Regions from separate parts of the Homo sapiens genome. Here region 1 is linked to region 2. A link means that fine-mapping ties the variant in region 2 to the expression of a gene that starts in the linked region. Tissue or cell type: whole blood. Region 2 holds a variant in brackets; the other region holds the start of a gene. All regions are shown on one strand. Distances are between the middles of the regions.

Evidence for each region. PIP is the estimated chance that this variant, and not a neighbour inherited with it, causes the effect.
Region 1: DCHS1 starts here. The variant in region 2 is fine-mapped to the expression of DCHS1 in whole blood (TOPMed, PIP above 0.99).

What each region holds. Positions count from the first base shown.
Region 1 is chr11:6,653,348-6,658,347 of GRCh38, forward strand. It overlaps DCHS1 (dachsous cadherin-related 1), which reads right to left and starts at 2,462. Exons shown (of 21, transcript NM_003737.4): 1 at 2,216-2,462.
Region 2 is chr11:6,671,006-6,680,948 of GRCh38, forward strand. MRPL17 (mitochondrial ribosomal protein L17) reads right to left here. Exons shown (of 3, transcript NM_022061.4): 3 at 9,380-9,943. Among named protein-coding and RNA genes, the nearest start is that of MRPL17, 7.4 kb to the right of the region's middle. RefSeq lists an enhancer at 2,782-2,831. The variant G/C (reference allele first, on the strand shown) is at 7,191.

The DNA of each region.
Region 1 (5,000 bases), 20 kb before region 2:
GGCCTAGGTTACTCTGCTGTGTGCTGCTGTGTTACAACACTCACTCCACAGCCTGTAAGCTCCATGAGGATAAGGACCATGTCCATTTTGTTCACACTTGTGCTGCCAACTCTCATCACAATGCCTAGCAGAGTAGGTGCCTAGTATGTGTTTGTTAAATGAATGAATTAGCGTTTTGATTAATTAATCTACTGAAAACAATGGTGTGAGGGATGTGGGGTAATGAGTGTGAAGAAAATAGAAAAAAAATCATCTATTTATTTATGAAGGGCCCAGTTGAGGTTTGAATTTTTTAGAAGTATGAATTTATAGAAGCGTCCCCTGGTGTGGTTGAGAAATCATTCTAGTTAGGGGCAATAATTTGAGGGATGAGTATAGAAGACAAGGAAACACAGTGGCCAAGGAGTGGTTGAAGGGATGATCCTTAGCATATGAGCTGGAAAGAAAGCACAAAGTCAGAAAGGAACAGAGTAGGAGAAAACAAAGAGGTCAAGGGCAAGAGGTCATTATGAGGTCAAAGAGTGTAATGGGAGCGAGAACATCTGAAAGCTGGAAGGATATAGGAGGTTGTGGGTAGAGAGAGGAATGCAAGAGTTTAGAATTTTAAAGGTGGAATAGTTCTACAGAGTGGTCCTGGGAGGGAGGAAGGTAACAGGAGCTAAGGAGGTCAAGAATCTGTGAAGCTGTGGTGTTGAAGGACACTGAGAAACCATGGCAGGATACACTATCCAGATCTCGAAGTTTTCAGGGAACAAGAGGGTATACCTGGGAGATCTACGTATGAGAAGGGGTGAAGGTGTGAGCTTGATAAGTTAAGCAGAGTTTATTCAGAAGTTGGGACAGGTCTTCCTGTGGTGTGCATGCCATCCATGACTGTCTCCTGGGGGTTGTACAAGTGGCTGTGTGGTAAGGGCAACTGTGGCACAGCCTCCTGTTAGTGACAGGCTTCTAGGACACCCACTATGTATGGGCAGCTCCAAGGAAGTAAACCTAATAAGATGTGCTGTGACAGTTGTGACAGTGCTTCTGATGGATGTGGATTGCAGTGACAATGTCTCCTGAGAGGTGCTGGTCTACTTGTTTGTTGCTGGTGACAGTGTTTCTGGAGAGTGTTAGCAGTAACAATGTCTTCCATGGTATGTGTTGGCCTTGACAATGAACCGGTGGGAGTATGTTGGTTGCAGCATTTCTCCTGTGGGTGTGTGTTGTCATGAGAGCATTTTCCGTAGGTGTGTGTTGGCTTGATAGAGTCTGCTGTAGGTGTGTGTTGGTTCTGACTGGGGGTGCTTCCTGGGGGTGGGCTTCCTGGAAGTGTATGATGGCTGTGAGGGTATCTCTTGAGGATGTGTGTTCCCTGGGACTGTGTCCTCTTGTGGGTTGAGTAGGGCTATGACTGTGTCCCTATGGGTATTTGAGAAGTTGACATAAGCGACAATATTTTTCTGGCCTATGACCTTGTGGCTGTGGGCCCAGCCCGCCACACTGAGTTCATTGTGCTTCTAGACCTCCCTCTCCCCACCCCCTCCACGTGGGACCCACGCCTGCGGTGACCTTGCTCTGTCCCCTGCACGGGATTCTGAGCTGGGTATCCCAGACACAAACTCCCAGTTGCTCCAATCTCCCACTCAGAACACGTCTGGGTGACCCCCCCCTCCATCCACTTCAGGCTGTGCCTGCCTCTCCTCTGCTTCTCTGTACTTCTCCCCACTCAGTTTCTTTGTCTCTGTCTCAGTTGGTCTCTGTCACACACCCATCCTCCACATTCTGACACATGGGCTCCCACAGAGCGGGCAACACACCCTCACAGGGACTCGCTCACCATGACACACGGTCATTCTGACCCTCACACCCTCAGAGTGACACGCACATGCACACACAGCCAGAGAGACGCCCAGGGACACACAACCTCCCAGTGACACGCACTGACACACTCCGACGATGCACTGGAACACAACGCTGTCGCACCCCACACCCCCGGCGCACGCTCCCGCCGCCACCCTCCCCGACTCGATGACACACGCACACAAAGACCCCCAGGCCCTGCCCCCACGCTCACGTTCACGCCCGCCCGGGTCCCGCAGGCCCAGGCCCCCCCTCCCCCATTGTCTCCGGCTCAGAACAAAGCCCCCGGCTCCGCCGCCGCTGCCGCAGCCCAGGGGAGGCCGGCGGGCAGGGCGGGCGCGGCCAGACGGGCCGGGCGGGCGCGGGCACTGACCTCCGCGCGACGCGGGCTCCCTCGCCCGGTGCTGGGGCGCCGTCCGGCCGCGGTCAGCCCCCCGGGCAGCGCCCGCTCGCGCGGGGCCTGAGGCCGCGCATCGTCCGCAGTCGCTGTCTCCGAGGCCCGCGATCCCCTCCGGGCAGCCGCCGTCGGTCCGCGCGCCCTTGGCCGTCGATCGGTCCGTCCGCTGACGCCCGGGCGCCGCCTCCTGCACAGCCGCCCCGCCGAGGATGCGAGCTCCGCTGCCGCGGCCCCGCGCCCCCTCCCCTCCCCTCCCCCCGCCCTCCGCGCGGTAACCCGAGCCCCCGCCCCTCCGCCCGCGGAGCCCCCGCCCCCGCCCCCACCCGCGCTCCGCGCCGCCGCCCCCCCTTCCCCCCGGCGCCCGCCCGGCCTCCCTCCGCCCCTCCACTTCCCGGCCCCAGGCCCCGGCTCCGGATCCGGCCCCAGCGCCGCGCCGCGCCCCCGTCCCGGTTCCCTTCCCTTCTCCCCGTCACTTCTCCCGTCCTCTCCTCCCATTCGGTTCTCTACGCCCTCTCGTCTCTTCCCCTTCTCGCCGCTCCCTGCTGCTCACCTCCTCCTCTTCCATCTTCTTTCCATCCCCTATTCCCCTCTTCTCCCTCAGTGCCCTGGTCTCCCTCTCGCCCCTTCTTTTTCCCAACCGTCATCTCCATTCCCCTCTGCCTTTCTCCCATCCTCTTCTTCTCGCCCCATCTCCATCATTTTCTCCCCAGCTCTTCTCCCCTTTCTCTTCTCCTTACCCCTTCTGCTTGATCTCTCTCCAGCCTCTTTACATCAGATTCTCCTTCCCCACCTCTCCTTTTATCCTTTTCTTCCTATCCCTTTCTCCCCGTCTCTTCTCCCCACCTTTCTCCCCATCCCCTTCTCCCTGTGTCTTTCGCCTCACCTCATCATCCCCTTTTCCTCACGCCTTCTCCTCATTCCCTTTTCTCACCCCTGCCCTTTTCACTACCCGCTGTCTCTTCCCCTTCTTCCATCGTAACCTCGGCCTTCTCCCCTGTTAGTCACTTTTCATTATCCCATGATTTCTGTCTCTTTTCTCTCCTTCACCCCCAGGCTCCCTTTCCCCCACTTTCTCTTTATCCCAAATTTGAGGGTAGAGATCGGGAGATATTGGAAAGAAGAGCTTTGGGGATGGTGGTCCCACTCACGATATACTCCCTAGAAAAATTAAGTGAGGAGGAAACCGGGCAGGGAAGTGGGAAGGGGCTCAAAAAACCAACTTGGGAGAGAATATGGGGAGAGGGGAAATCAGACAGAGACAAAGAGCAAGCAATCTTAAAGGAACTGGGAAGAGTTCTGACTCCTGTCCTTCTTCCTTAGGACTGCGAGTAGACTGTGAGAAAAACAGGTTTTCTGGACTTGAGATGTGTACAAATGGCACAAAGAAATCAGGAACTTCTGTGGAGAAGGAACACAGTTTCAGCTGAAGAAGAAGGGAGTGTGATTTTGGAAGAGGAGTGAGGGAGAGACTGGGGTCCTTGATCATATCCACGGCGCTTGGGCAGCTGGGTGGATGGATGGTGGTGAGGCTGGCTGTGCTCCACAAAAGGAGCAGCAGGAGGCTGCAGGGGGTTCGTATGAGGAGATGATGACTGTGACTTGGGGCTGCTGACTTTGAAGTGCTGGTTGGGTAGGTAGGTCTGCAACTTAGAGGAGCGGTCTGGGATGGACATAAATATTTGGGAGTCATCTGCAAATGCCGTATAAGCTTGAATATAGGGTGAAGTTTTTGCTTTTTTGTTTTTCCAAAATCATCCCTCAGGAAAGAGGGAGTAACCTTATATTTGAGTCCTTACAAGGTCTCTCATATTACAGGGTTTGCTCTCATTTACTTTATTTTGAACAACAAACCACTGGATAGGGCAGTATGGTATGGTGACTAAGCTTGTGGACTCTGGAGCCAGACTCCCTGGCTCGGGGTCCAGACTCTCCTATTTACAAGCTGTGTGGCACTGGGAAAGTTACTTAACTTGTCTCTGCCTCAGTTTTCTCATCTATAAAGTGGGCCTAAGGATTAAATTATGTAATATATATAAAGCACTATATACCTGGCACTATATGGTAAGTGTCCAATAAATGCTAACTATTTTTACTGTTTGGCTAAGACCCATTGACCTGAAATGTCCTCAACAATGCTATTTTGGATGTATTGTAGTCAAAGAAATTTAACACAGCTTTGGTAACTATTCCTGGTAGTATGACCTCATAATCGCATGTGTTGGATGTCTCAAAATATGCTTTTTAAAGATTGCTTTAAAAAGCAATACAGTAGTACTTGGAAGAGGTTTCTGGGCTGCCGAAAATGTTCTATTTCTTGACCTGAGTGGTTATATGGACCTGAGGGATGTTTCACTCTGACAGTTCATTGAGCTGAATATTTATGATGGCTTGTGGCCTTTTCCATATAGATGTTATATTTCAGTAAAAAAAGTTAACAGAAATATAATTTTTAAAAAGTATTACATTAAGTGATGTTTTGAAGTCATGAATATACTCAGGCAGGGTGCATGCAAAAAACCAACTGTTCTAGTGTGATGCAAAGGAAACTTGTGACTTAGGATAAAGTTTCCAAGGACTGCATCATCTGTGAATTCAAACTGTGCTGTGTCCTCTCCCAAGCCCTTCGCTTAAACTGAAGAGAAGGACATCTGTTCTGGGAAAACATGTAAGATGGCTGAAAAAGTGATCCTAATGATGAGAAAGACACTGCTTGTGTTGAGTATGCATAAAATTGCTTCATAATTTATGAGAATGGAAAAGA
Region 2 (9,943 bases):
AGTGAGACTGCATCTCAAAAAAAAAAAAAAAAAAAAAAAAAAAAAAAAGTGGAGAGAGTTTGCAGGAGTCAATGAGGTGATGGAATTGGACAACCCAAGCTTGCTGAGTTGTGTTCAGGACCCAGCTCTGTTGGTGACAATTCCAATGGTTGTTGATGCTTCTTGTTTCTAGGAGTGTTCAGTGAAGAAGGCACAGGAGTAGAGAATCTGGTGATTAGTATGTAGGTGGGAGAAAAAGACAACGGGTTCAACAGGGCATGGCATGAGAATGGTGGTGTTGGCTCATGACATCCAGGCTGAGTTGAAAAAGAAGAAAGGCCTGGTAGACAAAAGGGTAAAAGAGAGAGTCCAAAGGACTGGAGTTTCAAGAGGTTAGAGGTTTAACATCTGAGTGTAAGGGGATGAGGGAGCCAGAGACAAGAAGCTGGGTTTACAGAGTGAGATTCTGGAGGGCAAAATTTCAGGGGTAAAGCAGATCTCATCAGGAAAGGGCCAGAGGCCTGGTAAACAGAGTGGGCTGGTTGGATGGGTTACTGGAGGTGAGGACAATGTAGAACAGTGGGGCCAGAGACTTGGATGGAGCAACTACATGGATGGGGCAAGCACATGGATGGAATGATAGCAGGTCTTGGGATGGTGAGCAAGACTCTGAGACTAAGACTTCACTGAATCTGTGAGTGATTAGGAGCTGTCTTCTCCCAACCCCAAACTCCATTAGCCCAGCATGAATGAACCATCCTGTCATTAAAAAGGTGGGACGGGGAAGGGAATCTTGTTCTCGAGTGTTTGCAGAACTTCTCTAGAGAGGTCTTTACCTTCCTGTATTTGCTTCTATCTCTGCCAGCTCCGTATTGACTACTCAGTCAGGTTTTGAATTCATGTTCTCTCAATCTTCTCTAGACCCATCCTGTTAGGTCTCTGACCGAATTTAATGATTCTTTTTTTTTTTTTTTTTTTTTTTACTAGCTGTGGAGTATATACTGTGCATGCTTTCTCCTGAAAAGTAGACATGCTTAAACTGCAACCTTGCCAACTGACTTCCTGCCGGTTGGGCTAAAAGATGCCCTAGGATCCTTATCCCTTAGCAGCTAAGGCCGAGACCATTAACAGGAAGTGGTAAAACCAATGTCCTGAGTCCCAAAAGATAAGGGACTTTACACAAAAATGGAGGAGCTATGGAAGCAACAATAAGGAATGAGAAGAAAGCTCCCTTTCTTCTTGCTCTCAACCCAAGATTTTGGATTTTCCCCTCAATTTACACATACCCTTTAAGTGTCTATCTGTACAAATGAATGACCTTGCAAAAAAAAAAAAATCCCCAAAATGGACTTTTTAAATGTGACTCCCTTTCAAGTTGCTGATGTGTCTCTGCCTTGTCTTCCCTTTTCATGGTCACCAAACTTCTTGAGCTGTATTTATGGTTTCTGCTTTTGCCCCTCTGAAGAGACAACTCTATCAGAGGTCAATAGTGAATGTCCTAATTTCCAAGTCCAATGGCCAAAGATAGTCTTTAAACCAATACTCTGGAGCCTGGCCAACGTTAGGTTCTGAGAATACAAAATTAACTATTGTATGCCCCCCAATAACTCACAATCTACTGGGGGAGATAGACTCAAATTGACATTTTCAACACTCTGTTCCTCTGGATTTTGAGACAGCAGTGTTCTAGTTGTAGTGCTCCTTTTCAATCCCCTAAGAGGGCTACTCTCTCTTTCTCTGTCTTTCTGTCTCTCTCTCTCTCTCTCTCTGGCCTTTGTATGTTGGCTCTATGCTAGGACTCTTTTTTTTCTCCCCCTATATTTCCTGTCTGAGAAATCTCATCTAAACCAATTGCTCCATTTCCCATGTATGTGCGTATGACTCTCAAGTTTGAATTGCTAGCTTACCTCTATCCTCTGAGCTCCAGAACAATTGTTAACAAGACAGTTCCTTAACACGAGTATATTTACAACCAAGTTCATCACTGTAACTCCTGATCTACTTCCCCTCTTACTTATCCTCATTCTCTGTGAATATGTGAATAGAATTTCTCTACCCAACTACCCAAACAGAAACCTGGTGTTATCCTCGACTCTTAATTTCTCCTCCACCTCATGTAATCACATACAATGTGTCTAGCCTATTCTACCTTTTCTATGGCTGTTTGTTCTGTCAGCTTCTCTAGGTTTTCCCTGTTTTTGGCCTAATCTGGGTTTCCAACTCCACTTAGACTCCTTAACTAGCTTCCTATTTGGTTTACCAGCTTCTAATCTTTTTTTTTTTATTTTTATTTTTTTATCAGCTTCTAATCTTGTCCCTCTCACCTATCTTACAGTCTGATGCAAGAATGATCTTTCTGAAATGTTAATCTTATCCCTCTTTTCTCCATTTAAAAATACTGGTGGCTTCCCTTAGTCTTCAGGATAAAATCCAAACACTTTATCATATCTTACAGGGTCCTTTGTAACCTGGTCTTGCCTGGCTTTCCAGCTTCTCTTCCTTTACTTTTTCCTCAAATCTTAAATCCCTGCTGTGCCAAATTAATTGGAATTTCTCAACCACTCTATACCATTTCATAATTCAATGCATCTACAGATCTTGCTGCATGGAATGCCCTCCAAACTAATTTCTTTCCCCAATGCTTGATGAGTTCCTAATCATTCTTCAAGATTCAGCCCTAGCATTGTTTATTTTGAGAAGTTCTGCATGGACCACTTCCTTTCTTGGTACTCCAGTAGGCCTCAGGTGCAACCATGTTCATAGTATCTGTTTTACTATGTTGTACTTATTTATGATCTGTCTCTCTAACTGGTCTTTTGGGCCTTTGAGGGGTCATTCCAATATTTCAAAGCATAGTGCTTTGGAGGGAGAAATATGCTTGCTAAGTTAACTGATTAATTATTGAGTGCCTCCTATGACAAAGAAGACACAAGCTGGGTACTGTGATGAATTTTGCAGGTTCCCTTTCCTCTCTTAAAAAATTCTCAGTCTCCTTCAAAAGTTCTCTATCCTGTCTGTTCCCTACTGCCTGACCTCAGCCTCCTCTTGCTCTACATATATACTCTGAGTCACTCTATCCATTTATTTAGCTTTAATTGCTGACAACTCCCAAATTTGTTCTTCCAGCAAAAACCTCTTTCTCAAGCTCCAGATGCTTCCAGGCATCTCAAATGCAGCACATATGAAACTGAACTATCTTCTTTTTCTTTTTATTCCTTCTGGGATAAAAGGAGAAGTAATTGTAGGAAAGGTTATGAAACCATTTTACGGAAAAGTAGTTAGAAATTAAGCCAGGACAATGTCATTAAGTCTTCAGTGACATCCCTAGGTACAGCTTTTGTGTTTTCATCTCCTTTTGTGTTTTCAAGTGAATAGCAGAAAAACCCTTTAATGGTGTGCTTCCTGTACTGGGCTACACAGTGGTGTACCAAGGTATATATGAAACCACAGTGTAAACAAGGCTTGTCTTCCCAAGACATCAATTTTGATAGAAAATTGTGTGTGTTCATGTGTGTGTGTGTGTCTGTGTGTAATGTACAATATTTAACTTGTGAGAATTAAAAATCTTATTTTTCTATTAAACAGATATGTTGTGGAACAGAATGCAAAAATGTCAGAAAAGTTTAGTTCTTTCCTGGAAATGTAAGCACACAAACCATTTCTATTATTAAGATATCTCAGATTTAACTACCAAATTTAAGGCTGGGCTCAGTGGCTCACGCCTGTGATCCCAGTACTTTGGGAGGCCGAGGCGGGTGGATCACCTGAGATCAGGAGTTTAAGACCAGCCTGACCAACATGGTGAAACACCGCCTCTACTAAAAATACAAAAATTAGCCAGGCCTGGTAGCAGGCACCTATAATCCCAGCTACTTGGGAGGCTGAGGCAGGAGAATTGCCTCAAAAAACGAAAACGAAAACAAAACGAAAACATCAATAACTAACAAATTTATATCCCAGAAACTAAAGGAGAGCTACACTATGCCCATGCATTTAAGAGCACAGAGAGGAAAGCCTTAAGGGTACAGATATTACCCAGGCATGAACAATAGGGAATCAGCTTTGCAGGAAGTTCTTTTTTAGATGAAGAAGGAGGAAACAGGAGAAGGGAGGAGTCAGTGAGTCCAAAAGACAGAGCTAAGCAGAAGAACTCAGTATAACACATTGATTCATTCAACAGACATTTATAGATGTCTATTTTGCCTCATGTTCTTTACAGGGTGGTGGGAAAAGTGAATTAGACGTGTTTGTGCTCTTAAGTAGTTCACTGTTTAGTAATGAGTGCTGAACAATATAATTATACCGTTGTTGTAATGAAGAATGTACAATGTAAAACTGGACTGCAAAAGAAAATAAAGAAAACAGTCCTGTTTATAATAGCATTAAAAAGAATAAAATCTTAAGAATAAATTTAACCAAGGAGGTGAAAAATCTACATACACACACACACACAAAGATCTATACACTTGTATACATATGTAACAAACCTGCATGTTGTGCACATGTACCCTAAAACTTAAAGTATAAAAAAAAAAAGATCTATACACTGAAAACTATGAGGTGCCAATGAAAGAAACTGAAAAAGAACAAATAGCTGGAAATACATCCCATGTTTATGGATTGGAAGAATTAATAATATTAAAATGTCCATGTTACCCAAAGTGATCTACACATTCAATTCAATCCCTATGAAAATTCCATGGCATTTTTCATAGATGTAGAAAAAAGTCCTAAAATTAGTACAGGACAACAAAAGACTACAAATAGAATAAATAATCTTGATAAAGAACAAAACTGGAGGCATCACCTTTGCTGATTTCAAACTACATTCAAAGTTACAGTAATCAAAACATTATGTACCATACTGTTTTGCATGTACAACTTAAACATAGACACACAGACCAATAAAACAGGATAGAGAACTCAGAAATAAACCCATGCATGTATGGTCATGTGGTCAACTGATCTTTTTTTCTTTTTTTTTAATAGGGTCTTGCTGTGTCGCCCAGATTGGAGTGCAGAGGCACAATCTTGGCTCACTGCAGCCCTGACTTCCCGGGCTCAAGTGATCTTCCCATCTCAGCCTCCTGAGGAGCTGGGACTACAAGCACACACCACCACATTCAGCTAATTTTCTTGATTTTTTTTTGTAGAGATGAGGTCTCCGGATGTTGCCCAGCCTGGTTTCAAACTCTTGTGCTCAAGTGATCCTCCTGCCCCTGCCTCTCAAGGTGCTGGGGTTACAGGTGCGAGCCACCATGCCCAACTGGTCAACTAATCTTTGATGAGGCACCAAGAATACACAATGAGGAACAAAAATCCCTTCAATAAATAGTATTGGGAAAACTGGATAGACATATGCAAAATGACAAAAATGGACTTTTGTATTACACCATATAAAAATGAATTTGGAATGGATTCAAGACTTAAATGTAAGATGTGAAACTGTAAAACTCTTAGAAGAAAACATAGGGGAACAGCTCCTTGACATTGGCCTTGGCAATGATTTTTCAGATATGACACGAAAAGCATAGGCAAACAAAATAAAAATAAACAAGTTGTACCACATCAAACTAAAAGGCTCTGTACATCAAAGGAAACAACAAAATGAAAAGGTAACTTACCGAATGGGAGAAAATATTTGCAAACCATATCTGATAAGGGGCTGATATCCAAAATATATAAGGAACTCACACAACTCAATAGCAAGAAAACACAAAAAATCTGATTTGAAAATAGGTAAAGGATCTGAATAGATATTTTTCTAAAGAAGAAATACATGAAAAAGTGTTCAGCACCACTAATCATCAGAGAAATGTAAATCAAAACCATAATGAGAGATCATCCTACACTTGTTAGCATGGCTGTTATAAAAAAAGATAAGGGATGACAAGTGTTGGTGAGGATGTGGAGAAAGGGGAACACTTGTACACTCTTGGTGGGAATGTAAATTGGTACAGCCACTATGGGAAACAGTAGTATGAAGGTTCTTCAAAAAATTAAAAATAGAACTACCCTATGATCCAGCAATACCACTTCTGGGAAACAAAATCAGGATCCTGAAGAGAGATATCTGCATTCCCATGTTCACTGCAGCCTTATTTACAATAGCCAAGATACAGAAACAATCTAAGTGTCTGTCGACACATAAATAGATAAAGAGAATGTGGTATATTTATATACAATGGAATTGTATTTAGCCATAAAAAAGGAAATCCTGCTATTCATGACAACGTGGATAAACCAGAAGAACATTATGCTAAATGAGTCAGTTAGACACAGAAAGAAAATTACGTATGAGCTCATTTATATTTGAAATGTAAAAACATTGAACTCATAGAAACAGAGTAGAACAGTCATTGCCAGGGTCTGAGGTATGAGGGAAATAGAGATGTTGATCAAAGGGTCTAAACTTTCAGTTATAAGATGAACAAGTTCTGGAGATCTAATGTACAGCATACGTGGTGATGGATGTGTTAACTAAAAAAAAAAAAAAAAGAAATTGGATCATTGGAATAGTGCTGAGTTTTGCTTGGGTAATTCTGTCAACACTTTACAAAAAACGCAACCTTTCAGCTTTTGGCTAGTCTTGGAAAATTTATAGGTGTTTTCTATCTGTGGATTGGTTAGAAATATTCCAGAAAATTGGAATATAAAATGTGTGGGAAATGAATTAGAAATATGCTCACATTCTTGACAATCATTATAAGCATTTAAGTTCTGGAAGAGGAAGGAGACCATTTCTTTTGCTTGGTATACTCAGTAGTGTAGCTTAACCCTATCTCTACATGTGGTACCATGTTTATTGTTTGTAAAGCTCAGCCAGAGAGTTGAATATGGCATGGATGTAGCTTACTCCTCCTTATTTAATGAACATATATTGAGCACCTATTTTGTATCAGGCCTTATGATAGAGTTATCAAGAATGAGTCCCAATCTCTGGCTTCAGCAGTTTGGCTGAATGAAGGGATCAGTTAAGTAGACAGGCAACTAGTTAGGTGTATGCCCACAGGATTATAAATAACAGTACACAAGAGAGGCCTGAGCCCATTTGGACGGTGATGTGGAGTTTGGGGCCTCAGAAAAGTGACTTCTGAGCAAATATTTGAATGACAAGTAGGAGTGGACTTGAAAGAGGGCAAGCATTATAGTAGAGGGAACATCATACACCAAGTAGTAATATAGTCAGAGAATAACAAGGAGTTTCTCAT[G/C]AAGGGTGGCTGCAAATAGTGGTAGGAAAGGAGGCTGAGAAGTGGCCGGGACCAGGTCATAGATGACCTTTGTGTCATTAAATGTCTGGATTTTTATCCAGCGAAGGCGGTGGTTAGTCACTGGAATACTGGCTATGAAGAGTGTTTTTCAAAGAGTAGATTATAATCCATTAGTGGGTTGTAAAATCAATTTAGTGAATTGGGGCCAGCATATAAAAGGTGAACAAGTAGAAAATATGAGGGTAGATCATATTTGTAAAGGTAAATAACATTTTATGAAGATTTTGTTTCAATCATTTATGTTTATGGATAATCTGTTCTGATGTAAAATGTTTTTTGACCTGTAGGTCACAGTCACAATTTTTGAGAAGCACTTGTTTAAAGGTTCAGTGTTACACAAATTATCAGATTACTTTTAGTAGTAATTAACAGAAAATTCAGATCCAAATGGGAATAATCACTAAAAAAGATTATTATTCCAACGTAACTAGGATTCCAGTTTGGGAGCTCTTGGTGCTGTAGTTTTAGTTGTTTTTTTTTTTTTTTTTTTTTTTTTATACTTTAAGTTTTAGGGTACATGTGCACATTGTGCAGGTTAGTTACATGTGTATACATGTGCCGTGCTGGTGCGCTGCACCCACTAACTCGTCATCTAGCATTAGGTATATCTCCCAATGCTATCCCTCCCCTCTCCCCCCACCCCACAACAGTCCCCAGAGTGTGATATTCCCCTTCCTGTGTCCATGTGATCTCATTGTTCAATTCCCACCTATGAGTGAGAATATGCGGTGTTTGGTTTTTTGTTCTTGCGATAGTTTACTGAGAGTTTTAGTTGTTCTAATCTGCCACTCTCAGTGTTATCTTCTGCCTAAAGCCAGTTCCCCAGTGGCACTTAGAATAACATGCCAATTTATTCATCTAGGCAGAATAGAGCTTAGATTCTCACTGCCTTAACTTAGTTTAGGCCTGTCCACTACAACCCATTCAGGAACTAATCTACTGTAGGAAACTGTAATGCAATGTGGCAAATTCAGTGTATTATCGAAACATAGAGCACCTCAGCTGACGAAGTCATGAATTTAGCTGTGGGGATGGGCGGGGAGCCACCTAGGTGATACCAAAAGTTTGTGTGTAAGTTACATAGGTAAAAGAGAGAAGGCTGTCTGCACGGCAGGGACTGCTTTAACAAAAGGTTGTGGACAGGGGAGCTGTGCACAGGGAAACATCCAAAATAGGAACTTTTATGCTTCTAGAGCATAGCATTTAGAGGCAAAGGAAGTAGTTGGAGTGATGAGTAGATGCCTGAACAAGGAGGGGAGTCATGATAAGGATCCCATAGGAAATAAGCAACTGGAGATCATCACCAGGGAATTAAGATGATCAGATTCCCGTCAGTACAGCCAAAGTGTAGAGGGAGGTAAGTTAGGAGGTTGTTGAAGTAACCCAGGATAGAGGTATCTTGGATTTCTTACTAGGGAGCAAGTTGACTGCAGATTTGAGAAACATTACGGAAATAAACATGACTTGTTAATTTCAGTGTCAATGAGGGTAAGGAAATAATCTCTGACTTTTCTAGTCATCTCCCCAAGATATCAGGCTTACAGTGTATTAACTGTAAAGCCTAAACTTGTTACCTTTTGAGAAAGGAGTGATCATTACTTTGTCTACCTTACTGTAAAGAACTGGCGCCCAAGACGGTGGGAACCTTTGAGAGTGGTGCTCTTGGGTTTGGAACGCATTAAAGAGGTGCCTAGATGGACTTGGGGGGAGCAGTCCACTAGTTGAAGAAGTTATTTATAAGCCAGATTAGTAAAATTCTTTTTTTTTGAGACAGAGTCTCGCTCTGTTGCCCAGGCTGGAGTGCAGTGGCACAATCTCAGCTCACTGCAAGCTCCGCCTCCCAGGTTCACGCCATTCTCCTGCCTCAGCCTCCTGAGTAGCTGGGACTATAGGTGCCCGCAACCACGCCCAGCTAACTTTTTGTATTTTTAGTGGAGACGGGGTTTCACCGTGTTAGCCAGGATGGTCTTGATCTCCTGACCTTATGATCTGCCTGCCTTGGCCTCCCAAAGTGTGGGGATTACAGGCGTGAGCCACCGCACCCGGCAGTAAAATTCTTGATGCTGTTACTTTCCTTGTGTTATCCCTGAGCCTTTAGCAAATGTTTTAGGATTCATGTACTTTTATTTGGACCAAAACATTAAAGGGGAAGCAGTGTCCCTTGAGGCCACTGTGGTAGTGGCAGTGGCCTGTTATTGTGAGCTCATTGATGGTACAGGTTGTTTCTTATCTCTAGTCTCTATTAGATGAACAGTGGATATTGTATCCCTTCTGCCTAAATTGATGCTGGGAACTAGCAGATGCTCAAAAAGCATGTAGGGAACTGTTGGAAGTCCCAAAGGGAGATATATTTCTGGGGTCTAAGAGGAAAAGCTACAGGAGCCCAGCCACAATCCATCTATTTAAAATAAAGATGTGGTTTTAAGGAAAGTGGTTTCTCTAGAAGTTAGGTATGACTCCTAGATACCTAGCTAGGGTGGATATTCATGCTAAGACAGAAGAGGGGTATATTTTTTAGCAGAAGCAGAGTTGTAGCTTTATTTCATAAATGTTTTGAGTGTCTACTATATTTCATTTAAAATATAAGAGCTTTCTGGCTATAGTGTGAAGAACAAACCATAGTAGAGAAAAAGAGATAAAGAGCTCTGTTGGGAGTAGATGAGTATCAGACTAAGGCAGCTACAGCTAAATTA